Linked DNA regions of Homo sapiens. The protein of the gene in region 1 interacts with the protein of each later gene in a biochemical or structural test. Each region holds a gene or a part of one and is shown in the gene's direction. Other genes may lie near its edges. The genes, in order: SLC7A11 and OTUD5.

Region 1 (15,972 bases):
TACAGGCCAGGCACGGTGGTTCACGCCTGTAATCCAAGCACTTTGGGAGGCTGAGGCGGGCGGATCACGAGGTCAGGAGATCGAGACCATCCTGGCTAACATGGTGAAATCCCGTCTCTACTAAAAATGCAAAAAATTAGCCGGGCGTGGTGGCAGGCGCCTGTAGTCCCAGCTACTCAGGAGCCTGAGGCGGGAGAATGGCGTGAACCCAGGAGGCGGAGCTTGCAGTGAGCCGAGATCACGCCACTGCACTCCAGCCTGGGCGACAGAGCAAGACTCCGTCGCAAAAAAAAAAAAAAAAAGCATGACATATCTTTCTATCTGGTCAAGCTGTTTTTAAAAAATATACAATTTACAAATGTCTTGTTAATTTTATTCTTAGCTTTTAAATTCTTTGTTGCTATTGTAAATGGTATGACGTCTTTCAATATTTCATGTAACTTGTTTGTATATACAAAGTGTACTGATTTGGAAATTTATTTATTTGTAAACATTATCTTAAAATGGTTTAATTCATTGTAGGAGAGATTTTTGTTGTTGTTGTTGTTGAATGTTTTATTTTTTCCAGGTAATTAATCATAAAATAATGAGTTTTTGTGCTCTTTTTTTCCTTCTTCATGCCTTTTCTTGTCTAATTCTAGCAGTTAATGCATAGAAAATGATAAATGATAGAGGTGACAATATATTTCTTTATCTTATCTCTAAGATTAAGAAGAGTACTGTAATATTCCCAAATACTAGAGGATGCACAAAGCAGTTCATCCCTATTCAACTGTACCCTATCCCAGTTCATCCCAGGTGAAAGTCTTAGTAACTGCAATACAGCAGCCTGACAGCAGCTATCCATACTCTGCTGGTCACTTGAGTTGGGCTCGTTACTGCCATTTGGCAGGTGAGTCAGTAAACTACAGATTTTTTTGAGTCTGCACTCTAGACTACGTTCAATATCAACTGTCTTAATTCAAGTTCTCTAAAAAAAAAAAATACCACAAAATAAGGAAATGCTTCTATGAATACTGTGGAGGGAGTGCAGGAAGCAGAACACGGACGGGAAAGACAAAGAAAGCTAAAATTTCAGGTAAACGCCTAGCCTGATCCTGCAGCTTGGGAAAATAACTCCGGAGATTGTCTCAACTAAAGGCAAGTATGTTGGACTGTCATATTCTCAAATCAAGGAGTGATCGGTTAACATCTGTTAACATTCCATAAGGGATGTAAACTCCCAGGCATCCCTACTCTCTGCCCCCATGGGAAAAGTGGCTCCGTTAATCTAAGCGCCGTCCTCTGAGGAGAGTCGCAGGTATGCCTTTTTAAGCAAAAACAGAAGCTAAGGAACAAATACCCAGAAATAAGAAAAGTGATATGAGAAAATCTCTATAGAACATCAACTATCACCTACAATTGATAATATTTTTTTCCTATTGATTTAATATTGAGAGAAGTGTGTTGAATTTTCAACATTTGCTTATCAAATTTTCTTTGTTATTTTATTGTATGTGCTTCACATATTTTGTGCTGTGTTCTTAGATGCATAAAGATATTTTATCTGTACAATGACTCTCTTCATAATAGTTTTTGCTTCACAGTTTTTTTGTTTTAACTCCTATCTTGTAGGAATAGCAAGCACTGAATATGCAAAGAGAGTTACTAGTAAGAGAGAACATCAAAGTGGAAATAAATAGTCAATTCCTGTATCTTCTCTTAAGCCAGAGTCAGCGAACTTTTTCTGTAAAGAGGCAAATTATAAACATTTCTTATTTGGCAGGCCATTCAGTCTCTTTTGCAGTTACTCAACTCTACTGTTGTAATATGAAAGCAGCCATAGAAAATATATAAATGAGTGGGCATGGCTATGTTCTAATAAAACTTTATTTATAAAACTTCCTGTCATTAGCCCATTGCACTGACCTTGTAATGCCTTATTTGCAGTTAAGATATTGCTAAACAAAGAGTTGGCGAACTACACAGGAGCTAAGAAAAATGTTTATATTTTTAAAGGGCTGTAACACACACACACACACACACACACAAACACACAGATACACAGAACATGGACAGAGACAATGGGTAGCCTTAAAGTCTAAAATATTTACTACTTGGCCTTTTACAGGAAGTAGGCCAATGTCTGCACTAAACTCACAAAAATGAGTCTGGCAGTTTTTCCTCCTGTTTTCACTTTCTGAAATAATTTCTCTAAGGAGGAGATTATTTATTTCATAAAAATGTGGTAGGCCTTACCTGTAACACAAGTAGAACCTAGTTTTGTTTGGTTTTATTTTTTTGAGCCAGGGATATCCTTGATTAGCACCATAAATAGTTGCCATTCCATTCAGTTTTTCTGTTTTTTCTAATGACGTAATAGAATCGATTCATTTTCCAGAAATGTGTCCATTTTATTCTGAGTTTCACATTATTTTCCATATAGTAGATCACTGTACTCCTTTATTATTTAAAAATTCTCTTTAGCTCTCTAAGATATTTTCTCTTTTTTTAAACTCACATTTAATATATTTCCGAATTTTTTATTGCTTACATTTGCCAAACCTGTATCTAAATTATTATTCTTTCTAAATAATTAGATTTTCCAATTGGGAATGTTTTCTATTCCCCTTTTGTTCTTAATTTTTTTATTTCTGTAGTTATCTTTTTTTCTTCTTTGACTATATTGTTTTTACTTAAATTTTTCTGTTGAATATTGAGCTCATTTCCTCTTTTATTTTCTGATGAATGTATCTTGAAGCTTTAAGTTTTCCTTTAAGTTTTCTTTAATCTACTCTAACAAATTTGAACATATGGTTTTCATTGTTATTCAGTTTTAAGTATTTTGTGAATTTTTTCTCAGGGCCTATTTTCTAATTTAAAGATAAGTTGGTAGTATGTTTTTTTTTTTTTTTTTTTTGAGACAGAGTCCCCCTGTGTCACAATCTCAGCTCACTATAACCTCTGCCTCCCAGGCTCAAGCGATTCTCCTGCCTCAGCCTCATGCTGGGATTATAGGCATGAGCTACTGCACGCAGCTGGTAGTATGATTTTTAATTTCCAGACATATAAGATTTATTTTATTAGTTTTATAACTATTAATTTCTAATTTTGTTGCATGTTTATAGTAAGAGTGTATAGTTTACACAATGTTGATTCTTTGGAACTTACTGGGGTTTCATTTTTGTCTTCGATACGGATAGTTTTGTTAATGTTTCATATATGCTTGAAAATAATCTTTATTTTTTATTTGGTGGATGGGAAATTCTCTATAAAGTAACTCTATTGAGTTGATTAATTATGCTCTCCAAATTTTCTACAGTTTTGCTTATTTGTCTGCTTGAGCAATCTGTTTCTGAAAGAATATCACAAATTTTCAACTATTGTGCTTTTTTTTTATAATTGAGTTATGGCATAAATACAGAAAGGTATAACAATATAAATGTAGGCCAGGCGCAGTGGCTCATGCCTATAATCCCAGCACTTTGGGAGGCCGTGGCGGGTGGATCAGTTGATGTCAGGAGTTCAAAACCAGCCTGACCAACATAACAAAATCTCATCTCTACTAAAAATACAAAAATTAGCTGGGCATGGTGGCACATGCCTGTAATCCCAGCTACCCAGGAGTCTGAGGCAGGAGAATCACTTGAACCCACCAGGCAGAGGTTGCAGTGAACCGAGATTATACCACTGCACTCCAGCCTGGGCAACAGAGTGAGTGAGACTCCGTTTCAAAACAAAAATAATAAAATAAAATAAATGTAAATCTCAGTGAATTGTCAGAAAGTTAAAATATTCAGGTAATTACTACCCAGGTTATAAAATAGTACAATACCAGGACTCTAGAACTGTTTTTGTTCCCCCTCGCAATCACTAGAAATGCTTATCTCCAAAGATAACCAGAGAGTTCTCAGACTATAGAATCATTTCACTTGTTTTTAAACTTTATATAAATTGAACCATGCAGTATATGCTTTTTAATTCTGTCTTCTAACATTATGTGAGAGTCACCCATATTGTTTTTTTATATCACTATTGTTCGTCCTTTTTTTTATTGCATTGCAGTATTTCACTAAATAAATACAATGATACATATATCCGTTGTACTGTTAATGGACATTTGGGTTATTTTCAAATGAATAAAGGTACTAGGAATGTTCTCATCCAAGCTTTTTGGCATATAGATGCCCTGCATTTTTACTGGGCATATTCCCAGGAGTGGGTTTTTTTTGTTCAAAGGGTATGTGTCTGTTTAACTTTAAAAGATAACACCAAACAGCTTTCCATAATGGATGCACCAATTTGTGTCCCCCCACCAGCAGTGTAAGAATTCTGGTTGCTCCATGCTGTCAGTACTCCTGGTATTGCCAGTCTGTCTCATGTGAGCCATTCTCAGTGGGAATTGATGGCTTATTGTGGTTTCGGTTTTAATTGCCCCAATAGCTAATACTGTTGAGCAGTTTTTTACAAATGAATTGACTATTTTATTGAGCATCTGTTCAAATTTCTTGGCCATTTTTTATTGGGTTGTCTGTCATTTTCCTATTTATACAAACTTATTATTTATTCTGGATATGAGACCTTTGCAAATTGCAAATATTTTGTCCCATTTTAAGATTCACTTTTATAATCAAATAATATATTTCAATAAACTCAAAATCTTAATTTTAATGTATTACACTGTATTTTTCTCTTTTTTGTATTAGGGCTTTGTGTGTCCCTTTTAAGAAATCCCTGCTTACACAAAGTTTAGAAATATATTCTGCATTTTCCTCTAGATCAGCACCGTCCAGTAGAATTATAATGGAAGCCACAACTTTGAACCACGGATATGATTTTAATTTTTAGTAGCCATAATAATAAATAAAATAGGTAAAACTAGTATGAATAATACAAATTGTTAATAACTTTTTTGTTATTTTTCTTTAAGACTTCAAGTTCTAGTCATATTTCAAGGGCTGATAACCACATGTAACTAATTATTATCATATCAGGTGACCCATTTCTAGAAGCGTTCATGATGCACCATTCAAATTTAGCTCCATGATCCACGTGCAATTGACTTTTGTGTGTGTTATTAGGTAGCATACCTAGCAAGGAAACTAGGTAGCTTACAGAAGCAAATGAAGGTCTTCAGGATCCCGAGCCAATCTGGGTCCCTTAGGAACTAACATAGGGCATGATAGTACTAGGACTTTCTGAATATCTCTAATTTCTGCACATTCTCTGTTATTCTGTGAGGATATTTGCAACACGCCAGGGAACATGGCCACCAGTTGTTGTCAGATCACATCTTTACAATCTCCAACAACAGATGAAAAAAGCTGATTCTAATTCTGTTTAGAAATATCCCAGCTCAGGTAATATTCCAATACTCTGCAGCCAGAGCACTGGATTATTTTTGGCCAGGCCTAGATGATATGCCTGTATTTATAACCATGGGACAGAAATTGTTACTAGAAAACGGTAGCTACCAGTATACATTATTTCTATTTCTATTACGAGATGCTGTGAGGAAGCTAGGACTATTTCTTGTGCACAATAAGCAGTAAATAAGTATTTGCGAATAGCACTAGGATAGTCTCATAATTTGACAGCTATACTTAAAATAAGGCCTAATACAGGATGAAAAATATGTATTCATTTGCTTTGAACACATTTTTATGATACACAAGTATTTGAGGACCATCCAAACTCTTAGTTTACAAGCTTAGAACTGGCAATTTTAAGAGTTCAAGGCAATTCAACATTTTCTTTATAAACTGCATTTTCTACAGATTTTGGGGTGCTTAGAAGAGGTACACTGGTGCCCTTAGCAGCAATGTGCAGCTTTGCAAACATTCTGAGTGGTGGCCTCTATCTTACATGAAAGTACAATCCTTTTGGTTTTTAGTCTAACATCAGCCATTTTTCTTCATAATTAAAAAAAAAATACTGTGAGGAGGAAAATGTTATTTAATATTGAAAGAATAATCGTCCTTTATAATTCATTCAGTTTCCTATCTGAGTGGGGTCTTTGGCTCAACTTATGAGTTCAGTTATTTATAACAAAATTTAAAATTAAAGTGTGACACTGTGTTAATTAGAGAAAGTTGCTGTTCCCTGAGATTCCTAGTGTCCTACTTTTACCTCATATTTCTTCAGAGCTAATATGTTTCTCTTACTGGGAAAGAAGAGCTGCTCCTTAGGTCCATTAATCAGGAAAATTGTGTGAGTGAAAGGAGATGTAGGAGGAGGAAGAGAATTGGAAAGAAAAGAATCTCTATTTAGCTTCCTTCTTTGGGAGTTTTAGCAGGATTGCATGAGGAAAATGATCCATTTTTGTTTTTTGAAAGACATTAACAACTGAGAAAAAGTATTTATTTTGGTTTTATAAAAACTTTAACTTGGTGTAGCTGAAACCAATTATATAGAATTTAGATAGATAATTTAAAAAGGAGAAAATGTAGCCTCAATTATTTGGATGGCAAAGCATTGAGGTGGTGTCATTTTCTCAGGTGTCAACATAACAGAAAATGGTTCTGACCTTTTCCATGCTACTTTCCTAATGGCGATTTCTCATTTCTTTCTTTGATCATCCTCACCATACTTGACTCCCTTCTTTCCCTGCCAACCTCTCGCACACAGGCTTTTTGTTTGTGGTTTTTGTTCAAAGGTTCAGAAGCTTATTTAATGGTGCGTATAAAGGTAGCTTCAGGGTAATGATAACATTCAATTCTTCTCACTGAATCCAAAACCACATGTAACTATAGCCAAAAATGATATCTAGGATTTCTTTTCTTTTCATATTTGTTTTTTCTTGACACTTGGTTGAGAAAGTTAGAAGGGTTTAAAAATGTTTTGCCTTTTTGACTATTGCAAAGTAAATATTTTAATTTAGCTTACATTTTTAATGCATTTTAAATTTATAATAATAACAATAGTTTATATAATGTGGAAAAAAGTCATACATAATATCATTACTTTCTATAACTACCATTCTGTTTTCCTTTACAGGCTTTTGCTATATACATATTTTTATGTAATTGTAATTGTGTAATTTTGAACTTAGAAATTTTTTTTGGTAATTCAAAGGAACAACATGACAATGAAGGATATGTATCTTTTACATAGTTCAAAAAAATCACCTAGTGCTAATGAGAATCAGAAAATGACTATTTTCTGGAGTCATGGTGAATTTTGTATTAGTCACACTCGGATGGTGATTTAAAATACTGGTTTATTATGAGTAGTAAGAAATAATTTTATCTTTTAATGTTGAGGAAGGCTTATAGTTGTGTGTATGTGACAGAAGTATAAAGTGTAGAATCTTTAATTTTGTAAATATTGGATTTGACTGTATTGCCTTATAAAAAACTCAAAATAAAAAAATAAAAAGCATTACACAAATTATGAAATTCAAACTGTGTTGTTATAAACAATGTAGCTTTAGGATACATTCTACTCACAAAACAGTCGCATGTAAAATGTTTTTATACACGCATTAAAGAAAAAGAAACTCCTTAAAATGAAGTAACTATTTCCTGTTTCATTTTGTTTGAACAGCTTTTGTTGCTCACTACGAGTTGCTTTAAATCTCTGGGAAGGTCTGTTCCGAATTTACTACTTCTGGATTGGCTAAAATCTCTTTAAAGTGTGTGCTTTGTTCTCTAAAAAGCTTAGGTCAGTTGAGCAACAAGCTCCTCCTGTTTTTTTCTTTTTTTAAAAAAAAGAGCTGAGTAATGCTGGAGGCTTCTCATGTGGCTGATGCAAACCTGGAGAATTTGCATCATCATTTAGCTGTAGTAAGTTGGTGTGACAGGCAGGCGCTTAAATACAAGCCCATGAGGAAGCTGAGCTGGTTTGTAATGATAGGGCGGCAGCAGCAGCAGCAGCAGCAGTGGTGGAACGAGGAGGTGGAGAATTGAGAGCACGATGCATACACAGGTGTTTCTGAGTAGTAATTAGATCGCTGTGAAGGAAAAAGCACACCTTTGAGTTTTCACCTGTGAACACTATAGCGCTGAGAGAGACAGTCTGAAAGCAGAGGAAGACATCGATCAGTAACACCAAGAGACACCAAAGTTGAAAGTTTTGTTTTCTTTCCCTCTGTTTTATTTTTCCCCCGTGTGTCCCTACTATGGTCAGAAAGCCTGTTGTGTCCACCATCTCCAAAGGAGGTTACCTGCAGGGAAATGTTAACGGGAGGCTGCCTTCCCTGGGCAACAAGGAGCCACCTGGGCAGGAGAAAGTGCAGCTGAAGAGGAAAGTCACTTTACTGAGGGGAGTCTCCATTATCATTGGCACCATCATTGGAGCAGGAATCTTCATCTCTCCTAAGGGCGTGCTCCAGAACACGGGCAGCGTGGGCATGTCTCTGACCATCTGGACGGTGTGTGGGGTCCTGTCACTATTTGGTGAGTGCGACTTTTTCTCTCGTGGGGGCGTGGCTGTGGGGCTGGAAAGCTTGCTTTCTGGGAAAGCAAATGGTAGTTTTTGAGGAGTGAATGGATGGCAAAGGCCACACCAAATTTTTAAAATTTTTGTTCGGGTACGTGAACTACCCAGATGCAGCATCCGCTGTTGGTGTGATCTGGAACACCCTCAAATTGCTTCCTACAGGCTGTACTTTCTTTTCCTGACTAAGACAGGCTATCTTCTGACTTTTCTCTGTGGTGATGAGAGCAAAGGCTAACTTTCATGACCCAGTAAAAAACATGCACACTTTCTGTGCCGGGCAGTTGTACACTTAGCTTGGGCATTCTGGCAGCTGGCATGCTGAATGAGACACCTGTGAAGTGGAACCTGGCATGGGCTATTTAGACATAGAACGGAGTGTTCAGCAGAAGTCTTACTGACTTTTTATTAGCCAAACAAATGGGTGGCAGTCTTTATAAAAATATTTTTTAAGTTCATGTGCTTGTCACCTCTTAATATCCTTTCAAAAGTCCTTGACATGGGAGAGATGTATGATGGCGCATAACTCAATCCCTATCATAATGGGGTATATTGCAATGGCCTGAGCATATTTCAAATTACTTTTCAACCTTTCATCTCTTCTCAATACCCATACACTTTTGCAATATAAGTTTTAAAACTTCAGTTGGGCGTTAGTTTTCTGTACTTGCCCAGATCTGTTTTTTTCATTATATTTCACTTGTTCTCCAGGGACACAGAGAATTTGTCCACCTGTTCACTAAATTAATCTGAAGGGAACTGGCAGAAGTATAATTATGAATTTTTCTTCAAAGTTTATGTCTCTTCTATTGATCTGAGAATTAATAGTAAAGAGGTAAATAAATGCCCCCTTATGGAGTAGGCAAATTACTAGAGAGCTACCTGAGTTTGTTGTAAAGATGATAAAAACTGGTGAACTGTCAAACATTAAATTTGATTTATGCTATGAGGATTTATTTACTCTTCTTGGGAAAGATTCTGTACTTTAAAGTTGCTCTTTGTCTTAACTCTGGGACTAACACTAACTAACAAGTACTAACGCTAACTCTAGGACTAATTAACAAGTACTAACTCCTGTTCCCATGTGTACCAATCAATTCATTCTTTCTACTCAGGCCTTGTGATGTTTTAAATCATTGGTTTGACACTCATCTAGAGAACTCAAATTCCATTTTTTTTTTTTTTTTGAGACAGAGACTCGCTCTTTGCCCAGGCTGGAGTGCAGTGGTGTGATCTCGGCTCACTGCAACCTCCGCCTCCCAAGTTCAAGCAATTCTCCTGCCTAAGCCTCCCGAGTAGCTGGGACTACAGGTGTGTGCCACCACGTTGGGCTTATTTTTCGTATTTTTTAGTAGAGATGGGGTTTCACCATGTTAGCCAGGATGGTCTCGATCTCCTGACCTCGTGATCCACCCACCTCAGTCTCCCAAAGTGCTGGGATTACAGATATGAGCCACCGCGCCCGGTCCTCAAATTCCATTTTTAGGAAGAAGTTATTTTAAATAGAACTTGTTAAAACAAGTAGTATAGAAAGATTTATAGAGGAATTATTTGGGGTTTTTAGAGAGAGTTTGTGGTATTATTTATAACTAACTTGTGCTTTATTAAATATTCAGTAACAATTGTGTATCATTATTTCCCAGTATTACTTCCCATCTTTATAAAATAATTTGGAGTAATATCATTATGAAAAACTCTAATAGTACCCTTAGCCACTATTAATATTAAAATAGCTCTGGTATATGCACTTATAGAAAAAGAGAAACCTAATTGTTGATCATCTTAAATGATTTTGTGCACCCTCAGCCTTTAAATCTTCCTACAGCACTTTATATATTCAGAATAAATCAATATCTAATCAGAAAAACCACAACCAGTTTACTGGACTTTGCGTACTTATGTGCATGCAGCTTCCACTATGTGATTCAATTTTTGCACATAATAAAAGATTATTCAGATGTAATAAAATAGATCAGTATGAGTATTGAACTAGTTAAAGTGTGTTGACTTGCACTATGAAAATATGCTTATGCATAAGTATTACATATCATCTGAAGCAAAAGCTCAAAAAAAAATAAAAAGAGAGAAACAGCTAAGGAGACTAGCTAACATTACACTTGAGTTGGTATTCTTTGATTAGTAATTGCAGGGAGTGTGCTCTTGTATTAATCTACTTATCTTTATTTGCATTGCATTTGTCACTTAAGTTACCAGAAGCTTTTGGACAGGAGTGCCTCTGTAACAGCAAGCAAAGCAAAATCTGAAGAAAAAATAATCCTTCTTTTTAAAAAGACTCTAGAACTTTGGGACCAACTGTAAAGAATCTGTACATTTGGTTTAATACATATATATACTTTTTTTTTAAGTGAAGGGTCAATACATGGATTTTTACATCTTGTTTTGAACTTTTTTCATCTGGGCAAAATGGTTATGAAGCTTGAGACCTTTAAATGAAAATCATTCCCCCAGAACTCAGTTTAAACCTAGGGCAACCATCCTGGAGTTTCAGTAAAGCATATAGAGGTCTAGGTATTGATTCTCTGACAATAAATTCTGAGGTACTTAAGACTCTTCCCAATAACATTTTATATTGGATCCTTTTCTGGACAGCCTACCAACATGGCGAATGTTTCCCCATGGAGAGTGAGTTGCAACTAGTTAAAATTAGTTATAGGTAGATGAAATACATCAGTGTTCCCCAAATATTAGTCTGCAGACTCGTTACTTTAGAATTATTTGTACAAATTTTAAAATGATAGAGATTCTTGAATTTCTCTTGTGGACAATCTATACTCTCTTGATTAGAGTCTGTTTTTGGTTTGAGTGTTTTCGAATTAAAAATTATTCCCAGACTGAGCATGGTGGCTCATGCCTATAATCTCAGCACATTGGGAGGCTGAGGCAGACAGACCCCTTGAGCCCAGGAGTTCCAGACCAGCCTGGGCAACATGGCAAAACCCTGCCTCTACAAAAAATACACAAAAATTTAGCTGGGCATGGTGGTGTGTACCTGTGGTCCCAGCTACTTGGGAGGCTGACGTGGAAGGATCACTTGAGCTCAGGAGGCAGAGGCTGCAGTGAGGCAAGATTGTGCCACTGCACTCCAGCCTAGGTGCCAGAGTGATACCCTATCTCAAAAATTAAAAAAAAAAAAAAATTATTCCTAGGTGACTTTGATGTCATGATAAGTTTAGAAATCAGATATAAAATATGTAACACTAAGATTTCACTGAATATCCAAATTATATTTATATTGAGCAGTTCTGTCTAAATTATTACTAATCAGTAGTACTTTTCTACACTTTTATTCTCAGAAGTAGATTGGAAAAAAATTGTGTTCTTACATTTGAGCACTTGGCAGTACAGATAGAACTTTTCACATAATGACAGGATTTTTTTAAATTTTCTTGTTAATTACTCAAATTAATAAGTATAGCTATATTTCATGTGGTGCTTGCCATGTGTCAGGCCATGTACTGTACTAGGTACCCGCTGCCACATTTATACACACAACTCCTTTATGAGGTAGAAGCTGAGATCTCCATTTCACAGAGAGTGAAACTGAGGTTTTGGGGAGTTGCATATTTGTCCAATTTTATGTGAATTGTATCGTTAAATGTTAAAAATTTAGCTTATAGTTAATTTGATCTAAAGTACACAAATATAAATTATAGCACCTCATTTTAAAAAGTATATTCTGGGCCGGGCGCAGTGGCTCACGCCTGTAATCCCAACACTTTGGGAGGCCAAGGCAAGCAGATCACCTGAGGTCGGGAGTTTGAGACCAGCCCGACCAAAATTGAGAAACCCTGTCTCTACTAAAAATACAAAAAATTAGCCAGGCGTGCTGGCAGGCACCTCTAATCCCAACTACTTGAGAGGCTGAGGCAGGAGAATCACTTGAACCCTGGAGACAGAGGTTGCAGTGAGCAGAGATCGTGCCACTGCACTGCAGCCTGGGGGGACAGAGTGAGACTCCATCTCAAAAAAAAAAAAAAAAAAAAAAAAAAAAAAATATATATATATATATATATATATATATATATATATATTCTGGCTAGGCGCAGTGGCTCACACTTGTAATCCCAGCACTTTGGGAGGCCGAGGTGGATGGATCTTCTGAGGTCTGGAGTTCAAGACCAGCTTGGCCAACATGGTGAAACCCTGTCTCTACTAAAAATATGAAAATTAGCCAGATGTGGTGGCAGCCACCTGTAATCCCAGCTATTCGGGACCCTGAGGCAGGAGAATTGCTTGAACCTAGGAGGCAGAGGTTGCAATGAGCTGACAGCGCCATTGCACTCCAGCCTGGGTGACCAAAAATTCCATCTCAAAAAAACAAAAAACAAACAAAAAAAAACACCCAGAGAGTACACTTCAAAAAACATCCAAGATAGCCTTTTATAGAAACAGAGTCAGAATTCATTTTGTTGACAAAATATATCCTACAAATTAAATGAAATCTTGGCCGTGCACAGTGGCTCACACCTGTAATCCCAGAACTTTGGGAGACCAAGGCGGGCAGATCATGAGGTCAGGAGATTGAGACCATCCTGGCTAACACCATGAAACCCCGTCTCTACTAAAAATACAAAAAAAATTAGCCAGGCGTGGTGGCGGGCGCCTGTAGTCCCAGCTTCTCGGGAGGCTGAGGCAGGAGAATGGTGTGAACCCAGGAGGCAGAGCTTGCAGTGAGCCGAGATCGCGCCACTGCACTCCAGCTTGGGCGACAGAGTGAGACTCCGTCTCAAAAAAAAAAAAAAAAAAAAGAAATCTTGCAAGTCAGAGAGTCCATGGTTTTCTAAAGAGTGGATACAGCTTGTTCATTTTGATTTTCCACAGAAACATAATTTATTAAAAGGGTTCTCAAAAAATAACTCAAAAAACTTAAAAGCTAACTCAAACATTTGGACTAATGCCTTGTCTTGGTGTGAGGTTGTGTTCTTCTAAAAATAGGTCAATATTATTGACATCTCTCTCCTCTTTTTCCCCTATTTCCAGGTTTTCAGCTCAAAATTCTGGAACACATGATATTGTTGCAGACATGTATCTTTGTCATTTCAAGTAAAATTATAGTGTTCAAATAGAATACACTAAATCTCAACTGTGAGGATGTTAGAAAAGGAACTTGGCGGGTCTTAGCAATTAGATGATGGTTATTTGTCTTGAGTAAGGATGCCATTCAGACCAAAGGAGGCAGTTACATCTCAGGCAACATATAAACATTATTGTATCTATTCTAATGCTGGGTGTCTTGAAAATGTATTAAATTGGTACCATTTTGTGACAAATATTTCACAGGAGCTTTGTCTTATGCTGAATTGGGAACAACTATAAAGAAATCTGGAGGTCATTACACATATATTTTGGAAGTCTTTGGTCCATTACCAGCTTTTGTACGAGTCTGGGTGGAACTCCTCATAATACGGTAAGAGCATAGTAGAAAGAATTAAGAAAAAATAAACCAATTCATTCTTATGAATCACCTTGATTATTTTTAACTGGTTAGACACATGCATGTCATGTGACTACATGATAAACATGTCTACCTCAGGATATAAAGCCTGTGATAAAGTACCTTTCTGAATTAAGATATTTTTAATGCAATTTTATCACTGACAAGCAGTTCACCAGCAATGCCAAACTTTTAGAAATATCTACCTTTCTTTGACCCTCAGCTATTCTCTTTGACACTTCCAGGAGAAAGATGCTTACTTGAAAGAATATGAACATGAAAATTCACCTGGATACCTTTTGACCAACTAGACCAAATTAAATATTGAAGTTTTCTCTTATTGTAGATTATATCATTAAGGCATTTAACTTTACTTAGTCATTGTGACCAAGACACTTCTGTGCCTCACAACTTAGTTGGTCACCAAGTCTTATACTTCATAAAAAACAGAGTTTGCATGACAGAGTCAAATGACTCATTTCCTTATATTAAACAGATTAGGAACTACAGTTCCAAAAGTCTTTTTTGATTTTATTGTTGTAACAATGTGTTTACATTCCTGCTTGTCTTGGTTTAAAATCACACTGAATAGTGCTAAGTCACTCTGAATAGCAAATTTCCTTCGACTTTGTGGGAAGCTTATGATGTCATATGAGCATTTCAGAGTATCACAGTTCCTTAAGGCTAACTACTTTGATAAAATGTGATGTGCACAGTCTGATTACAGAATTTAATGGATATTACTAGGGAAACTTGCTCTTATCAAACTTATCAAACATATGTGATTGAGAGTTCATGTGAGCTTTTATGGCTAAGTGCCAAATACAGTGCTAGTAAGTATTGACAACACTAATCATGAGTTTTACAGTGTTAGAAGTCTTTTTTTTTTTAACCAAAAAAAGATCTTCAAAGTAGTATATGCTTCATGAAGGCTTTTTCATTTTAAACACTCTGCATTATTTAAAATTGTTATAATGAAATAATAATAAGTATTTTTTTCCTTTCCTGAAATTCCTCTATCAGGAATGCACTTCTATTCCTTTTGGTTATCTCAATCTTATCTGCTCTTCAAAGGTCATCTTAAATCCTTTCTTTCCCACAATTAATTTCCTGTTTATTCTAATTTATGTTATTTCTTTCATCTCTAAATTCTTCTGAAAATTCTATCTCTGCTTCACATTTGGCATTGAGCATGATACCTTCTATTCTTCCTTAATATTTTAGGTGTCTATATTTTGTTTCCCTTTTAAAACTGCCAACATTTCAAGCATACAAAGATAAGATCTTTTTGTAACCCATATACTACTTAGGTCAGTGCCCTTTTTTTGGCATATATTAAATTATTTTTGAATAAGTAATTGAAAGTTTAAAGTTACAATATATTGTGTACAACATACTCAGCATTCAAATGCATGTACTACTTATTGACTGCTGGCCTGTCAGGCTGGCGGGCTTTGGAGCTTAATACAGTTGGACTTGACTCCGTCTTCAGCCATGTATTAGTTGTGTAACTTTGGCTCATTGCTTAGCATTATGATGAACATGATCATTCCATATAAATATAGCTTATATCTTACAGTAGCACAGATAAAATATTCATATATTAATTTATTTATTCCACAAACTGCTACTGAATGGTAAATGGCAATAAAAAGAGATCTAAAATGAAATCAGCCACAATTTCTGCTCCCAGGTAGCGGATAATCAAATGTTACTTTAATTTAAAAAAAAAAACTACTTTTCTCTGTGTGTGTGTGTCTGTTGACAGAGGAAAGTACCTTTGTATTCTAGAAGCTTTTAAAATATGTTCATATATCTCTTTGTCATAACATACTCATATTGCTGAGTTGGCCTTTTAAATAGGCAGAATAACAAATGACATGAGGAGGGACAAAATATCTAAGTATGTAAATATTTCTCTTCTTTTACTAATACCCATAGTTCCTAAGTACTTCCCATTAAAATTATACCTTTAGATTAAGTTAGTATTGCCAGAAATAATCTGTAAAACACAGATTTCAAGGACAGAAATATTATCTATCTGTACACAGCAGGGGTCATTAAACCGAATTTGCGTGTGCACTATATATTCAATATATATT
Region 2 (16,148 bases), on another chromosome or scaffold:
TTGCCCAGGCTGGAACGCAATGGGGTGATCTTAGCTCACCGCAACCTCTTACCTCCTGGGTTCGAACGATTCTCCTGCCTAAGCCTCCCATGTAGCTGGGATTACAGGCATGCACCACCACGCCTGACTACTTTTGTATTTTTATTAGAGACGGGGTTTCTCCATGTTGGTCAGGCTGGTCTCGAACTCCCGACCTCAGGTGATCCACCCACCTTGGCCTCCCAAAGTGCTGGGATTACAGGTGTGAGCCACCATGCCCGGCCTACAGCATATCTTGGAATCCTCTAGCCCTTTGTCAGGTTCAGGATCTAGGCTCTTGCTAGTTACCCCCTCTTCACCACCTTTCCTAGATGAAACTCCTTGAGGTAGAGCCACATTCTCCACCCAGGCACTTGCTGGGTCTGAGTCTCTGGCTGCCTGAGGCAGTGTGGCTCCCTGGGCCAGGCCCTGCAAGGTCAACAGAAGCCATAAGGCATATGGGGCCACTGTTCTCAGGGCACCTAGGACCCTTTTGGAAGTAAGTCTTAGTTTCACTCAGCAACTAATTCCCTAAAAGAGTCTCCTACTTCACATGCATGGAGTGGTCAAACAGGGCTGAGAACTTTACCTTGGCCAGCGTCCTCTCTGTCAATGATCTAGGCCTCTCGGGAGCTTGAGGTCGGGGCCCTGGGGAGGGAGTACAGGTTTTCCCTGTTGCTGACCCCCACCTCTTCCCTCCAGCAGGAGCATTGGTTTGAAAAGGCCCTACGAGACAAGAAGGGCTTCATCATCAAGCAGATGAAGGAGGATGGCGCCTGTCTCTTCCGGGCTGTAGGTGAGTCTCTGCCTTAGTCCTTAAGGGCCTAGGGCTGCCCCTAAGCTGTGTCCCAGTTATCAGGAATAGCCCCTGAGACAGGGTTGAGGCAGAGCTAGCTAATCTTTTAGGGACTCTAGGCTCCAGCCTCAAGTTGGTATCTGACCTCTAGCCGTGGGTCTTGAGACATTGTAGTGGTGCAAGATTAATATGCATAATAACAGCAAGAAGAATGATAAAGAAAATAATATCCTTTGGGACACATTGTCAGGTGCTACAGGAAACCTCTTTGATTCCCCTCTAAGCTAGGTGAGTGTAGGGACTACTGTTGCTTCCATTTGTCAGATGAGAAAAGTGGCTCAGAGATGGTGGGTGACTTGTCTGGAGTGAAATAATAAGTGGTAGAGTTGGGATTCAGTGTCTGGGTTAGATTAGTCTGAGGCCCATGCTCTTAACCATAGCATACTGCTGCCACCCTGGGCTGTATGACCCCTAGGTTTATACCCAGATCCCATCTCTGGTGTGTTGCGGGTCTCTGTTCCTCAATCTGTGTGTATGGGGGCTATCAGACTAGATCTTTACAAATTTCTTATATCATAGAATTTTTTTTCAACTTATATAAAAGTAGAGAGAATGATGAACCCTCATGTACCCATCATCCAGCTTCAAAATAGTCAATACGTGGCCAGCCTTGTTTCATCACTATCCCGCCCACTCTTTCTCACTCCCCTGAAAGAAGAGTATTTTTAAAGCAAAACCCCGACATTGGATCATTTCATTCATAAATATTTCTGTATGTTTCTCTGACAGATACAGACTTACTCTCTTCTTTTTAACATAATCAAAATGCCATTACTGCACCTAACAGAATTAATAATGCCTTAATACCATCTGTTATCCAGTCTGAGTTAGATCTTTGAGGCCATTTTGGCTCTGAATCTGTGACCCAACAAGTAGTTGTGAGGTCCTGTGCTAGGGTGAAGGGGAAGCTGGGAATGTGACCTGATCCTCCCTGTGGTTCTCTGATATCTACCAAGGAAAAGTGCCCTCTGATAGGAGCTTTGAGCTGGGAGTCAGAAGACCTACCTTCTAGTTCTGGCCCTGACTCATAACTGCTGTGACACTTGGCCTTGGTCTTCCCGTCTGTGAAATGGTGTTGATTCTCAATGCCTCTTTGAGTTCCTTCTTGGTCTGCTATTCTCTCCGTCTGTGGGTACCCCCCATGTCTACTGGTGGGCTGGGGTGTTTTAGGCTCCATCCCTGGCTGCACAACTGATTCTTGGTATGACCTTAGGCAAGCAGCTCTTCTTTCCTGAGGCTGTTTCCTCATCTGTAAAATGGGGCTAAAAGACCCTAATGCTGTAACGATTTAATGAAGTTGCTTTGGTAAATCCCTTTAGTGCCTGACACATATAGTAGACCCTCATGGAACAGTAGCATTTGTAAAACCCAGATGCCATTTTCACTGGTGCCTCAGAGTCACATGTGTTTGTTGAAAGGGTGGAGTGAATGGTCTCCTCTCTATTCTGCCAAGCAGAAGAGGCTCAGGCAATGGGCTCTATTGGACTGGGAAAAAACTTATCCCTCCTACCCCTCTGGCTCAAGTTTGTGTTTTCCCTGGGATGTTTCCCAGAGGAAGAGCTGGGTTTCGGGGCATCTTGGACAAAAGAAAGGCAAAGAAAGAATAGGTGGGGGCCTGTTAGGTGCTAGGCCCTGTGTTGAGACCTCAGGCTAGATGTGGGGTAAGCAGGGCTTCTGGTGGAGTTAGGATTAGAGAATGCAGCGGGCATCTGAGTCTTGGGCAGTCATTGAGGGTAAGCCTTGGGACTGGCTAGTGAGGACCTGGCTTGTGTAGTAACTCATATCAAGAGCCGTGTGTGTGTGTGTGTGTGTGTGTGTGTGTGTGTGTGTATCTAGCTAGCTGTTCTCTGTGTGTGTGTGTGTGTGTGTGTGTGTGTGTGTGTGTATGTGTGTGTGTATCTAGCTAGCTGTTCTCCCCAAATACCCCCGACCCTTGGGGCTAGCTAGTGAGGACCTGGCTTGTTGTAGTAACTCGTATCAAGAGCAGTATTTGTGTGTGTGTGTGTGTCTATATGTATCTAGCTGTTCTCCCCAAATACTCCCGACCCTTCCTCCCACTGGGGCCTTCAGTAAGGGGCCTCTACTTACAGGAAGAGCTGACCAGGGCAGGTTGAAGGCCTTTCCTTATCGGCACTATGGCTACACATTTCCCCTGACTGGGCTGCCTTTGGCTTTTCTCTGTAAAACCTCAGAAGTCCTCTGGCCTCTCCCCCGAAGTACATGGCCCTTGGTCTCTAGACCTTATCTGGAGGTTTCCTTGGTGCAGAGTGCATAATACATGTGCCTGGGAAGGGGACTTTGTCCCTGGGCTTTTTGCTGCCCCCGTTTCCAGCCTCGCCTGGATGGGGACAGATGGCAGTCAGCTTAGACTGTAGTGTGAAGCCCTACAGGCTGACTTCCTGCCATGTGTTGAATAGTGGAAGGAACGTGGAGCAGAGAGTTGGAGTTGGGCGGGGGCTGCAAACATAGAGGGCACTGTTTCCTTGACCCCTGCTGTGTGCTAGGCATTCAGCTGGGTGCTTCAGGCTCACTGCAAAACTTGGATCATTATCCCATGAGACAGGTGAAAAGATTGAAGCATAGAAAGGGAAATGACATGCTCAGGGCCATTAGCCAGAGCTGGCCTGGGAACCCAGAGGTGTCCAAAGGACACGCATTCTTTTTTTTTTTTTTTTTTTTTTTTTTTTTTTTTTTTTTGAGATGGAGTCTCCCTCTGTCGCCCAGGCTGGAATGTGCAGTGGCGTGATCTCGGCTCACTGCAACCTCTGCCTCCCGGGTTCAAGTGATTCTTCTGCCTCAGCCTCCTGAGTAGCTAGGATTACAGGCGTGCACCACCACACCTGGTTAATTTTTGTGTTTTTAGCAGAGATGGGGTTTCACCATGTTGGTCAGGCTGGTCTCAAACTCCTGACTTTGTGATCCACCCGCTTTGGCCTCCCAAAGTGTTGGGATTATAGGCATGAGCCACCGCATCCGGCCAGGACACATTCTTTTTATGATCCTAGGATCCTTAGCTTCTTAGCTTGGTTGTCAACTGGCTGGATGACCTTGGCTGTGTTCCTTGACTTCTCTGGACCTTACCTCCTCCAAGTAGGAGCACGTGGCCCTCTGTTGTTGGGAGTCTTGAGGCAGGTGGCTTTCTGCCTTCTGTTCCCCTGGATTATCTTCCTATAGGGTCCTACCATTTGCTTTAGAGACTTCTGAGAATTGCCTACTCCCCAGGTAGCTGCCTGCCTGCCATTGGTTCCCCTGAGTTAAGCAATATCCATTGCTTGCGCTCAGTTCTCTCCCACCTCCTCTTATTGGGGATTCATGAGCATCATTGAAGGCTTGGGTGGAGTGGAGGTGGGAACCTGAGCCTCAGAGGTATCCTGTGGCCCACCCTGTCCCTGTTATGCTCAGATAACCTCCTCCTGGAAACATGACTCTGCATCTCTCCCTTGCTCCCTCCCTCCATGTGGCTTTGACTCAGCAGAAACCTCTAACCCTGACCAGGGTCCTGGTGCTAGCTTCTGTGGGCAGAGTGAAGGCCACATGGTTGTTTCTACATGGGCCATGGGGGAGTGGCAAGGGCTGTGCATGTTACCACGATGAGGCCCAGAAACATTAGCTAGGCCCACTCTTCTGGGCCTTTTGGTCTTGGAACATCAGCACTAGGAGGGATGGATCTGAGATCAATTTTGATTGTTTTATAAATGGGGAAACTGAGGCCTCAAGAGAAAGCCAAGACCCTACCCTATCTAGGTCATACAACCAGTGTCAGAACATTGGTATTTGAGGTTGAACCAGGCCACAGAAAGAAGATTCCCACGGGCCATTTCCTGTACACCAGCTTCCTTCAGCCTCTCCCGTGTATCCTTCAGGTTTCTCATCCTTGCAGTGGGAATCCTTGAGCAGAGGAGCACACATCTCAGGAACCAGACTATCCAGTGGGATGAGTTCTGTCTCTCCCACTGAGGGTATGCTAGTTGGGGTAGTTGGGGCTACAGACCAGGTCACACCACAGCTGCTTGACAGGCAAGTGAGACCTTTGTCCTGGCTCATCTCCTCAGGAGATTGGTTCTCAGTGGGGCCAGGGTTCCCACTGGACCAGGAGGGTAGTGGGGAGCAGACCAGGTCCCTGTCTCCCTCTGCAGCTGTGTGTACACACGTTAGTGTGGTTTGTTTTTAGGTTCCCTGTAGACACCTAGCTTCCTTTTTTGCCCTTAGCGGAACTTGCTGTGGCTCTTCTGGGAGGCAGGCAGCTACCTGGGGAGTAGGCAGTTCTCAGATGTCTCTAAAGCAAATGGTAGGACCCTATAGGAAGATAATCCAGGCTCTCATGTCTTGCTTCTTAACATAAATCTGGGTACATTATTGGTTACATTACATTAGTTACATAAGGACTTCCCCCGGGCAACAGAGGAGAGAGGTTGAGGCTAGTCTGTTAGAGCTCTTGGTTATTTCCCCTGCCCTCCACCTACCCTGCCAGAGGCCAGGAAGGAGGTTGGTGGGGTAGGGGGTCCCTCAGTTTATAGAGCCTCACATCTTCAGTCTTTCCTGAAGTGGCAAGGGCATCTACTCATTGAATGTGATAGTTCTCTGTTGTGGGATTTGTTGGGTGAGCATTTGGCCTCAGGGAGCATCTTTGGCAGTCTCTGCTGTATGTGTATACACATGTGCATTTCTATACTGGTGTCTCTGTGTGTCCAGAAAAAGGAAAGAAGTGGGGTGTGTATGGGGAGGGTAAGGTTCATATTGGCCTCTGTGGCCCTAGGGAGAGATGCAGCCCCTGATATCTATAATCTCTGCCCTCTCCCATGCCTTTCCTGGGTTCTAGCTGATTCCTGCTTGTGCTGGTGTGGAAACTGAGGCACACAAGATCAGGTCCTGCCCCAGGGAGTAAGGTGACTAAGATGGTGGCTGGATTGGGGTGAAGGTGGTAATATCAGCTGGGGCCAGCAGTTACCCTTTGAGAGCCTGGCCTCCCCTTCACTCCCCCTAAATCTGTGATCCCAGGCAAGCTTTGCCACATTTCTGTGTCTCCTGGGTAAAGTAAGAGTGTTTTGGTAAGGATAGAATGAGTTGGAGTGTGAAAAGTCTTTGGTGTGGGACCAATTGTAGTATTGTACTGAGGATTTCTGAGCCCTGTTTGAGATGGGAACAGAGGTAGAATGGTGGGGGACCCCCTTCCAGCTGGCCTCTGGGAGGGGAGAACAGGTGCAGATTGCCCACAAGTGCAGCGTCAGCAAGAGGAGGAGTTTCAGTTTCTATCAAAACAAGTTCTCTGAATTCCCCTACCTCTGCAGGTCATCCCCCCAACCTCAGACCCCTCCACAGGGAAGTCAAGCCTGGCCCCCAGCCCTGTGTGCCAGCCTTCTGGGAAGAGGAGGGCTTTCTGGAGGACAGAGGTGGAGCTAGGAAAGTCAGAAAAACGAATTCTTTTTTTTTTTTTTGAGACAGAGTTTCGCTCTTGTTGCCTAGGCTGTAGTGCAGTGGTGTGATCTTGGCTCATTGCAACCTCCACCTCCCGGGTTCAAGCGATTTTTCTGCCTCAGCCTCCCAAATAGCTGGGATTACAGGCATCCACCACCCTGCCTGGCTAATTTTTTGTATTTTTAGTAGAGATAGGGTTTCACCATGTTGGCTCGGCTGGTCTTGAACTCCTGACCTCAGGTGATCCACCTGCGTCGGCCTCCCAAATTGCTGGGATTACAGGCGTGAGCCACCACACCTGGCCAAAAATGAATTCTTGTTGAGTACTTCCTATGTGTTTAGCTCTGTGCTTAGATGCTTTTCCTGCCTTATATTATTGGAGAAATCCTTCTATTCTCCCTTGTTGGGGTAGTACTATTGCTGTTTTCCTTGGTTTGGAGATGTATATTTTCTTCCACGTTAATGATTCCAAACTTAGGGTATACCTTATAATCAGTGTGGTGTGTTTCCCCCCTCAAAAGCTGTGATTAGGTACATGTTATACCATATCACCTATCAGTGCCATCATAGGATTGAGGAGAGAAGGTGGTATTTTACATTTTACAGATAAGTAAAGAAGTGTCATAACTCGTCCATACTTTAGGACCCTGTTTTATGAAGCCTGTATTGTTAATTCGATATTAATTTAACTGCTGAAGTTTTGTTAGAACTAACGGCCTAGAGGTAGACTTGTGGACCTTTGGTTTCGCTAAAGGTAGAGAGCCAGGAGAGGACATGCATCCTAGGTCTGCATTTGGGGCTTTCCTCTGGCTGAGGAATTGCAACAGAAATGAGGAAGGGCTTCATAAGTGGTTATGGCAACATTCTGGCTGACTCGTGGGTAACTAGCATATGAAGGAATCATTGTCGTCATGACAAATTGTGTTCCTGTTTCTTGACCACCTACTGTGCCTTAGGTGCTTGGCAAACCTCCTGTGTAGTTTTGACAACACCCAGCAGATGGAAGAGGAGTTACTGTCTCCACCTTATGCATGAGGACATTTCAGCTTAGAGAGGTTAAAGGCCTTATCCATTGCTACACAGCTAGGAGGCAGCAGAGCCTTTCTGCCAGGCAAAGGGGTCAGTGGCAGAGAAATGGGACCCTCAGGGGGTTTTCCCCCAGATCCCTTCCCTGTTCCACAGTCTCCTCTCTTTCCCCATTTTCCTGCATCTGGCATCTAGCTCTTGAAGATAGAACTCCCAGGCCTGGAAATGACCGTTGACCTTTCCATAGGAGATGGGCTTTCTCCAGCACCTCAGCCTATCTCTCTGAGCCTGGCCAGCCAACCCCTATTTAACCCCTTCATTCTCATCTTTGTTCCTGTTTACTGCAGCTGCCAACAGCACTGCCTCCCAGTACCCCAAGCTCAGTCTACAGAAATAGCTCCCCAAGTAGCTCACTGTGCGGGCTCTGTGGTCCTGGCTTCTAAGAAAGGCAGCAGCAGGGGGCCCCCAGCCTGTGCGCAGGACATGTGACTTGCTGGAAATGCCGCTGGGGAGGGCGGGGGAGAGTGTGGCCGCAGAACCCACATCCTTGTTTACATTGGTGAAGGGGCTACCCCCCTTCCCGCCTTCACAACCTCCACACCCCCTTACCCTTCAGGTCTCTTCACCTCCAAGAGGACTGGAGACAAACATGGGCCCTATTTTCTATCTCAGAGTAGCCTTTCTCACAGAACACTCCAGGGTAGGAAGGGGAAGGCAGGGAAGGTGTTCTTCTGACAGTTCTTCAGAGAGGTAGACTGACAGGGAAGAACTCAGGAGTGTTCCTGTGTGACCTGACCCTAGCCCCATGCCCCAGGGAGATCCCATCAGAGCAGTGGTCCTCTGGGGAAACAAAGGGAAATTCCCAAAACCAGTGGAAATCAGACTTGCATGATCTTCAGGCCCACTTTAATTTCACAGGGAGAAGAGCTCCCTGGCTTACCCAGCCTATCCATTTGCTCAGTAAACTTTTCCTGATTTCCTTTACTGTATCGGGCCCTGAGCTGGGGGTGGACTTTGGTGTGAACTGCCCTTTGCCTTCTGTGGGAGCCCAGTGTGGTCGGGCAGAAGTCTATGCACACCTTTGATAAATCTGGTGATAGAGGTGTCCTGGGTAGTGGGGAACTGTATTAAAGAACATGTTGGGCCAGGCGCGGTGGCTCACACCTGTAATCCAGGCACTTTGGGAGTCTGAGGCGAGAGGATCGCTTGAGCCCAGGAGGTCAAGGCTGCAGTGAACTATGATCGCGCCACTGCACTCCAGCCTGGGCGACAGAGCGAGACCTTGTCTCAAATAAATAAATAAATAAAGAACACATTGGTGTTTGAGAAGTAGGCAGCTGACGAGGATGGAAGGAGCGTCCTGAAGAGAAGGAACGGCATGTGTGAAGATCCTCAAGCGAAGCAGAGGGAGTGTGTTTCCTTCTCGCCTTAGTTTGACCAAATCTCACGACGCCTGGACTATTCGGGCCACAGGCTGCCCATCCTGAGTTAAGCTAAAGTTAGTTGCATGTGTGTCTTATCTCTTTTACTAGACTGTGTGCTCCCCGAAGGTAGGGGCAGGATTTTACTCACCTCTGTCACCTTCACAGTACCCCACATTCAGGCCTCCCTACGGAGGAAGGAATTCTGATTTACTCTGTGGCTACTCTGTCCCAAGCCCAGTGGTAGTTATTTTATACCCGTTATCTCATTTAATCCCCACAAAAGGCCTGCCATTTGGTTATCCCTTTTTTTTTTTTTTTTTTTTTTTGAGACAGAGTCTTACTCTGTCGCCCAGGCTGGAGTGCAGTGGCATGATCTCGGCTCACTGCAACCTCTGCCTCCTGGGTTCAAGCGATTCTCCTGCTTCAGCCTCCCAAGTAGCTGGGATTATAGGCGCCCGCCACCATGCCCGGCTAATTTTTGTATTTTTGGTAGAGACGGGGTTTTACCACGTTGGCCAGGCTGGTCTCGAACTCGTGACCTCAAGTGATCTGCCCACCTTGGCCTCCCAAAGTGCTGGGATAACAGGTGTGAGCCTCCACGCCTGGCCTGTTATCCCTCTTTTTCCCATTTTACAGATGAGGTATATGAGGCTCAGAACACTTGGGTCACTTGCCTCTGGTCACTCAACTCTCTAGTATCTGGCAGAACTGGGCTTGGAGCCCATTTTTTTTTCTTTCCTTTTTTTGTCTTTGTTCCCTTTTTTTTCAGCCTACAAAGGCCATGTTGACTTGTAGGAGTCAGGAAAACTGAATTCAGAGTTGACTCTGTCACAGACTGACTCTTTGTGACCTTGGACAAACCACAAACTCCCCCTGAACCTCAGTTTCCTCATGTGGAAAGCAAAGGGGGTGTGGGAATCAATAGCATTTGAGGCCAACCTGTGGAACTTAGAATGTTGTTGATTTCTCTGAGTGGCCACGTGTACCCTAGACAAAGTCATCTGCCCAAGAGGCCTGTGGATGTGTTCCTCTCACCTGCACTCTCTTGTTCTTCAAGTCTGGCCCTGCCTGCCATATTTTTCCATGACCCCGTTCTAGCCTACAAGGGCAAGAACTCTCCAGGCCTTGGGGTAGAAAAGGGAATTTCCCTGGTCCCCCAGTTCCTCCTCCCCAAAGGATGTTCTATGATTCAGAGCTCTTCTCTGGCATCTCTGACCCTAGCTGCTGCTTTCTTCTGCCCCCACAGCTGACCAGGTGTATGGAGACCAGGACATGCATGAGGTTGTGCGAAAGCATTGCATGGACTATCTGGTGAGAAAATGGAGGCCTTTGGGGAAGGGGCAGGGTGGGAGGATTTCTTCTCCACACAGACCTTAACCTTCCAATCTATTCTGCAGATGAAGAATGCCGACTACTTCTCCAACTATGTCACAGAGGACTTTACCACCTACATTAACAGGAAGCGGAAAAACAATTGCCATGGCAACCACATTGAGATGCAGGCCATGGCAGAGATGTACAACCGTCCTGTGGAGGTGTACCAGTACAGCACAGGTACTTCTGCAGTGGGTAGGTGAGGGAAAGATGGTGCCTCATTCGAGCCTGCCCAACCTGGCCTGCTGTGGATGCTCCCTCCTTCTCTTTCTCTGCAGAACCCATCAACACATTCCATGGGATACATCAAAACGAGGACGAACCCATTCGTGTTAGCTACCATCGGAATATCCACTATAATTCAGTGGTGAATCCTAACAAGGCCACCATTGGTGTGGGGCTGGGCCTGCCATCATTCAAACCAGGGGTGAGTGGGTCCCTGTGCCCAGAATGGCTGCTGGATATAGAGGTCAGAAACCTCTGTTGGAGTCTGTTTTGCCCCTAACTCACAAAAATATCCTGTCTCCTCTCTCCCCTGAGGTCTCACCCTTACAAAAAAAAAAAAAAAAATAGGGAGTTACTTAAGGTGATCTCTCAGGGCTTGTTCTTTGGTCTTGGTTTGCCTGTCTGAGTTGGCTTACCTATCTTTTGTGCCCGTTGAGGGCTGGCATTTTAGGATGTGGAGTCCTATTTTGGAGCAGTGAGCCAGGGCTTGCTCTGGGCATCTTGGCATGGATCTTTCTCCTGGGATCATAGTGGTTACAGACAGCCATGGTCACAGAGACATGGGGTACAGGCCTGGCCCCACCACTCACTGGCTGTGTGATCTAGGCAGATTCTGTAAGTATTCCAGGCTGGCAGCTTGGCTGATACAGAAAGCACCTCCCACTGGGCCTGGGGCCTAGTAGGTGTTCAGAAGGTGGCAGTGCATTTTCCCAGCACATACCGATAGATTCTCATTCATTTCTCTCTCTCTCTCTTACAGTCATTTGCTGAGGATTTTGGTATCTTCTATTCAGGTTTCACTTCTACAAACACAAAGTACTCCTGCTTCATTTTCGGAAACACATAGCCTAACACCAACACACCCTCCAACATAGGGTTCTTTTTTGTTTTGTTTTTAAATAAACTTAATTTTAGAGCAGGTTTAGATTTACAGAATTACTGCAAAGAGGCTGGGCACGGTGGCCCACACCTGTAATCCCAGCATTTTGGGAAGCCGAGGCTGGCAGATCACCTGAGGTCAGGGGTTCAAGACCAGCCTGGCTAACATGGTGAAACCCTGTCTCTACTAAAAATACAAAAATTAGCTGGGTGTGGCAGTGGGTGCCTGTAATCCCAACTACTCTTGGGAGGCTGAGGCAGGAGAATCACTTGAAACTGGGAGGCAGAGGTTGCAGTGAGCCAAGATTGTGCCACTGCACTCCAGCTTGGGCGACAGAATGAGACTCTGTCTCAAAAAAAAAAAAAAAAAGTTACAAATATATTACAGAGTTCCCATATGCCTCGCTATGATTAATGTATTAACATAGTACATTTGTCATAGTTAATGAGCCAATATCGACATATTATTAACTAAAGACCATACTTGACTCAGATTACCTTAGTTTTTCCCTAATGACCTTTATCTGTTCCAGGATCCCATCCAGGGTGCCATATTATATTTAGTTGTTGTGTCCCCTTTATCTCCTCTTGGCTGTGACAGTTTCTCAGAATTTTCTTGTTTTTTGTATTCGATCTGTTTACTGACTCTCGTTTTGCCTTTTCTAGAATGTCATATAATTGGAAATGTACAGTATGTAGCTTTTTCAGACTGGCTTTTTTCACTTAACACTATGCATTTAAGATTCATCTGTGACTTGTCCTGGTTTAATGGCTCATTTTCTTTTTTGGTGGGCGGGTGGAGAGACAGGGTCTCACTCTCTCACCCAGGCTGGAGTGCAGTGGGGCAATCTAGGCTCACTGTAGCTAGCCTCCACTTCCCTGGCTCAAGCAAGCCTCTCACCTCAGCCTCCCGAGTAGCTGGGAGACTACAGGTGCTCGCCACCATGCCCGGCCAGTGTTTTAAAAAAACTTTTTGTAAAAAAATGAAAAAAAATTTTTTTTTTTTGTAGAGACAAGGTCTCACTATATTGCCGAGGCTGACCTTGAACTCTTGGGCTCAAGTGATCCTTGTGCCTCGGCCTCCCAAAGTGCTGGAATTACAGGCATGAGCCACTGCACCCAGCTTCCTCTTTTTCTTTCTTCAAAAATATGAATGTTCTGGCCAGGTGCGGTGGCTCACGCCTGTAATCCCAACACTGGGAGGCTGAGATGGGAGGATCTCCTGAGGTCAGGAGTTCGAGACCAGCCTGGCCAACATGATGAAACCCTGTTTCTACTAAAAATACAAAAAAAAATTAGCCGGGTGTGGTGGCACACACCTGTAATCCGAGCTACTTGGGAGGCCGAGGCAGGAGAATCACTTGAACCTAGGAGGCAGAGGTTGCAGTGAGCTGAGATTTGACCCCTGCACTGCAGCCTGGGTGACGGAGCGAGACTCTGTCTGAAAGAAAAAATAAAAATGAATGTTTTAAGTTTTTGTATTTAATAGACTTAATTGTTTAGAGCAGTTTTAGATTTACAGAACAATTGAGGAGATAATACAGAATTCCCACATATCCTTCTCTTCCCAAACACAGTTCTGCTATTATTATTATTATTATTATTATTATTATTATTATTATTATCATCTTTTTTTTGAGACGAAGTTTCTCTCTCATCACCCAGGCTGGAGTGCAATGGCGCAATCTTGGCTCACTGCAACCTCTGCCTCCCGGGTTCAAGCAATTCTCTTGCCTCAGCCTCCCGAGTAGCTGGGATTACAGGCACCCGCCACCACGCCCAGCTAATTTTTGTGTTTTTAGTAGAGACGGGGTTTCACCATGTCAAAGGCTGGTCTCGAACTCCTGACCTCAGGTGATCCACCCATCTCGGCCTCCCAAAATGCTGGGATTACAGGCGTGAGCCAACGCGCCCAGCCCAGTTCTGCTGTTATTAACAGTTCAAATCATTATGGTACATTTGTTACAATGTGCGAACCAACATTAATACTTTTTTTTTTTTTTTTTTTAAGGCAGAGTTTCTCTCTGTTACCCAGGCTGGAGTGCAATGAGGCGATCTCGGCTCACTGCAGCCTCCGCCTTCTGGGTTCAAGCGATTTTTCTGCCTCAGCCTCCCAAGTAGCTGGGATTACAGGTGCCCACCACCACACCTGGCTAATTTTTCTATTTTTAGTAGAGACGGGGTTTCACCATGTTGGCCACGCTGGTCTCAAACTCCTGACCTCAGGTGATCCACCCGCCTCGGCCTCCCAAAGTGCTGGGATTACAGGCGTGAGCCACCATGCCCAGCCTAATACGTTACTATTAAATGAAATCTGCATGCCTCCTTAGGCCCCTTTATCTTTGATAGTTTCTCAGTTTTGTTTTGATGACCTTGACAGTTTTAAGGAGTACTGATCAAATATTTTGTAGGAAATGTCTCTTTTGGACTTTTTCTCATGTTTAAACTAGGGTTGTGGGTCTTAGGGAGGAAGATCACAGAGGTAAAGTGCCATTGTCATTACATCATTTCAAGGGTTTATACTATGAGTGTCATTTATGCCTGTTGGTGTTACCCTTGATCAACTGGCAGAAGTAGTGTTTGTTAGGTTTCTCCACCTAAGGTTACTCTTTCCCACCTTTTCCATACTGTACTGTGTGGAAGGAAGTCACTATGTGCAGCCCACGCCTAAGAAATGGTTATGCCCCATCCCCTTGAGGGTAGAGTATCTACATAGATTATTTGGAAATCTTTAAGGAGGATCTGTGTCTCATCCTTAACTCATCCTTAATTTATTAATTTTTCCAGTTATTACGTACATCAATATGGTCTTTTTTTTTTTTTTGAGAGGGAGTTTCGCTCTTGTTGCCCAGGCTGGAGTGTAAGGGCGCCATCTCAGCTCACTGCAACCTCTGCCTCCCAGGTTCAAGCGATTCTCCTGCCTCAGCCTCCCGAGTAGCTGGGATTACAGGCATGCGCCACCACACCCAGCTGTTTTTTGTATTGTTTAGTAGAGATGGGGTTTCACCATGTTGGGCAGGCTGAAGTCTCGAACTCCTGACCTCAGGTGATCCACCCTCCTCGGTCTCCCAAAGTGCAGGGATTACAGGTGTGAGCTACTGCGCCCAGCTCAATCAGCCATTTCTTTAGAGAGCCCTGGCATGTATTGGAGACTGTTAACAGAAATCAAGACCTAGGTGTTGAATGTGCTCTTCGATATCAGGTTGTCCATGCTTCTAGGCCCTGTCAGCTGATAGAGCAAGGAGCTACATGTATGTATAGTGGCCTTTGTACACATATCTATAAATATTTCTACCTGTAACCATCTGTATTTATATTAAACATGAATCCTTACTGATGTCTCCAACTCAGATCCATTATCACATGCTTCATTCTAGCCTTCTCCCCTTGTTCATCTGCAAATTCCCTCTCCAACAGTAGATACGCCATCAGATGTATATGCACTGGTTCCTACCATCCATTTATGTAACTGCTCATTTCCATATACACGCGTAGCAGAATCACACTTGTTCACCCGTACCCCCGTGGGAAACAACTTTATCACTATAGCTCAATGCTACATATAGTTCTTTTTTGCCTTTGGTGTTACAGACTCCATTCATTTTGAAAGTGACCTACTTGTACCCCCACCCCCTTCAAATGAGGGTGTTTATTTTTATTTTATTTTATTATTATTATTTTTTGAGACAGAGTCTCGCTCTGTCGCCCAGGCTGGAGTGCAGTGGCGTGATCTCGGCTCACAGCAAGCTCCACCTCCCAGGTTCACACCATTCTCCTGCCTCAGCCTCCCGAGAAGCTGGTACTACAGGTGCCTGCCACCACACCTGGCTAATTTTTTGTATTTTTAGTAAGAGACGGGGTTTCACCGTCTTAGCCAGGATGGTCTCAATCTCCTGACCTCGTGATCCGCCCGCCTCGGCCTCCCAAAGTGCTGGGATTACAGGCGTGAGCCACCGCGCCCGGCCAAGGTTGTTTCATGTTTGTAATACATTTGTATTATTTTGTCACATTTTTGCATTCTATGCTGGGATCTCAGATCTCCTAATTTTTTATTTATTTATTTTTGAGACAGAGTCTCACTGTCGCCCAGGCTGGAGTGCAGTGGTGCGATGATCTCAACTCACCGCAGCCTCTACCTCCTGGGTTCAAGCAATTCTCGTGCCTCAGCCTCCCGAGTAGCTGGAATTACAGGCATGCACTACCACACCTGGCTAATTTTTGTATTTTTAGTAGAGACGGGGTTTCATCATGTTGCCCAGGCTGGTCTCGAACTCCTGACTTCAGGTGATCTGCCTGCCTCGGCCTCCCAAAGTGCTGGGATTACAGGCATGAGCCACCGCGCTGGCCATAGATCTCCTAATTTTTATTTTATTTTATTTTATTTATTTATTTATTTTTTGAGACAGAGTCTTGCTCTGTCACCCAGGCTGGAGTACAGTGGTGCGATCTCGGCTCACTGCAACCTCAGCCTCCGTGGTTCAAGTGATTCTCTTGCCTCTGCCTCCCGAGTAGCTGGGATTACAGGCACGCGCCACCACGCCCAGCTAATTTTTTTGATTTTTAGTAGAGACAGGTTTCACCATATTGGCCAGGCTGGTCTCGAACTCCTGACCTCAGGAGATCCACCCACCTTGGCCTCCCAAAGTGCTGGAATTACAGGCATGAGCCACCGTGCCCAGCCTTCCTAATTTTTTTTTAAATAGCATATATTAAGGTCCACTCTTTGTGTTGTACATTCTATGGGTTTTGACAAATGTGTAATGTTATGTATCTACTATTACAGTATTATTCAGAATAGTTTGACCACCCTTAAAATTCCTCATACTCCATATGCTTACCCCTCCCTTCCTCCCTCTTCCTGCAAACACTATTGTCTTTGTGGGTTGCCTTTTTCAGAATGTCATATAATTGTAATCATACAGTATGTAGCC

The links.
Region 2: of the proteins of SLC7A11 (region 1) and OTUD5, one has a biochemical effect on the other in vitro, tested with the Homo sapiens proteins (one study listed by BioGRID).

Annotation. Positions count from the first base shown.
Region 1 is NC_000004.12:138,234,196-138,250,167, reverse strand, and holds the start of SLC7A11 (cystine/glutamate transporter), read left to right. Parts: upstream 1-7,818; 5' UTR 7,819-8,098; coding exon 8,099-8,375; intron 8,376-13,716; coding exon 13,717-13,843; intron 13,844-15,972. UniProt on the Homo sapiens protein: Heterodimer with SLC3A2, that functions as an antiporter by mediating the exchange of extracellular anionic L-cystine and intracellular L-glutamate across the cellular plasma membrane.
Region 2 is NC_000023.11:48,928,856-48,945,003, reverse strand, and holds part of OTUD5 (OTU domain-containing protein 5), read left to right. Parts: intron 1-720; coding exon 721-814; intron 815-8,652; exon of another isoform or gene 8,653-8,813; intron 8,814-9,985; coding exon 9,986-10,050; intron 10,051-10,136; coding exon 10,137-10,293; coding exon of another isoform or gene 10,294-10,308; intron 10,309-10,391; coding exon 10,392-10,540; intron 10,541-16,148. UniProt on the Homo sapiens protein: Deubiquitinating enzyme that functions as a negative regulator of the innate immune system. Has peptidase activity towards 'Lys-48'- and 'Lys-63'-linked polyubiquitin chains. Can also cleave 'Lys-11'-linked ubiquitin chains (in vitro).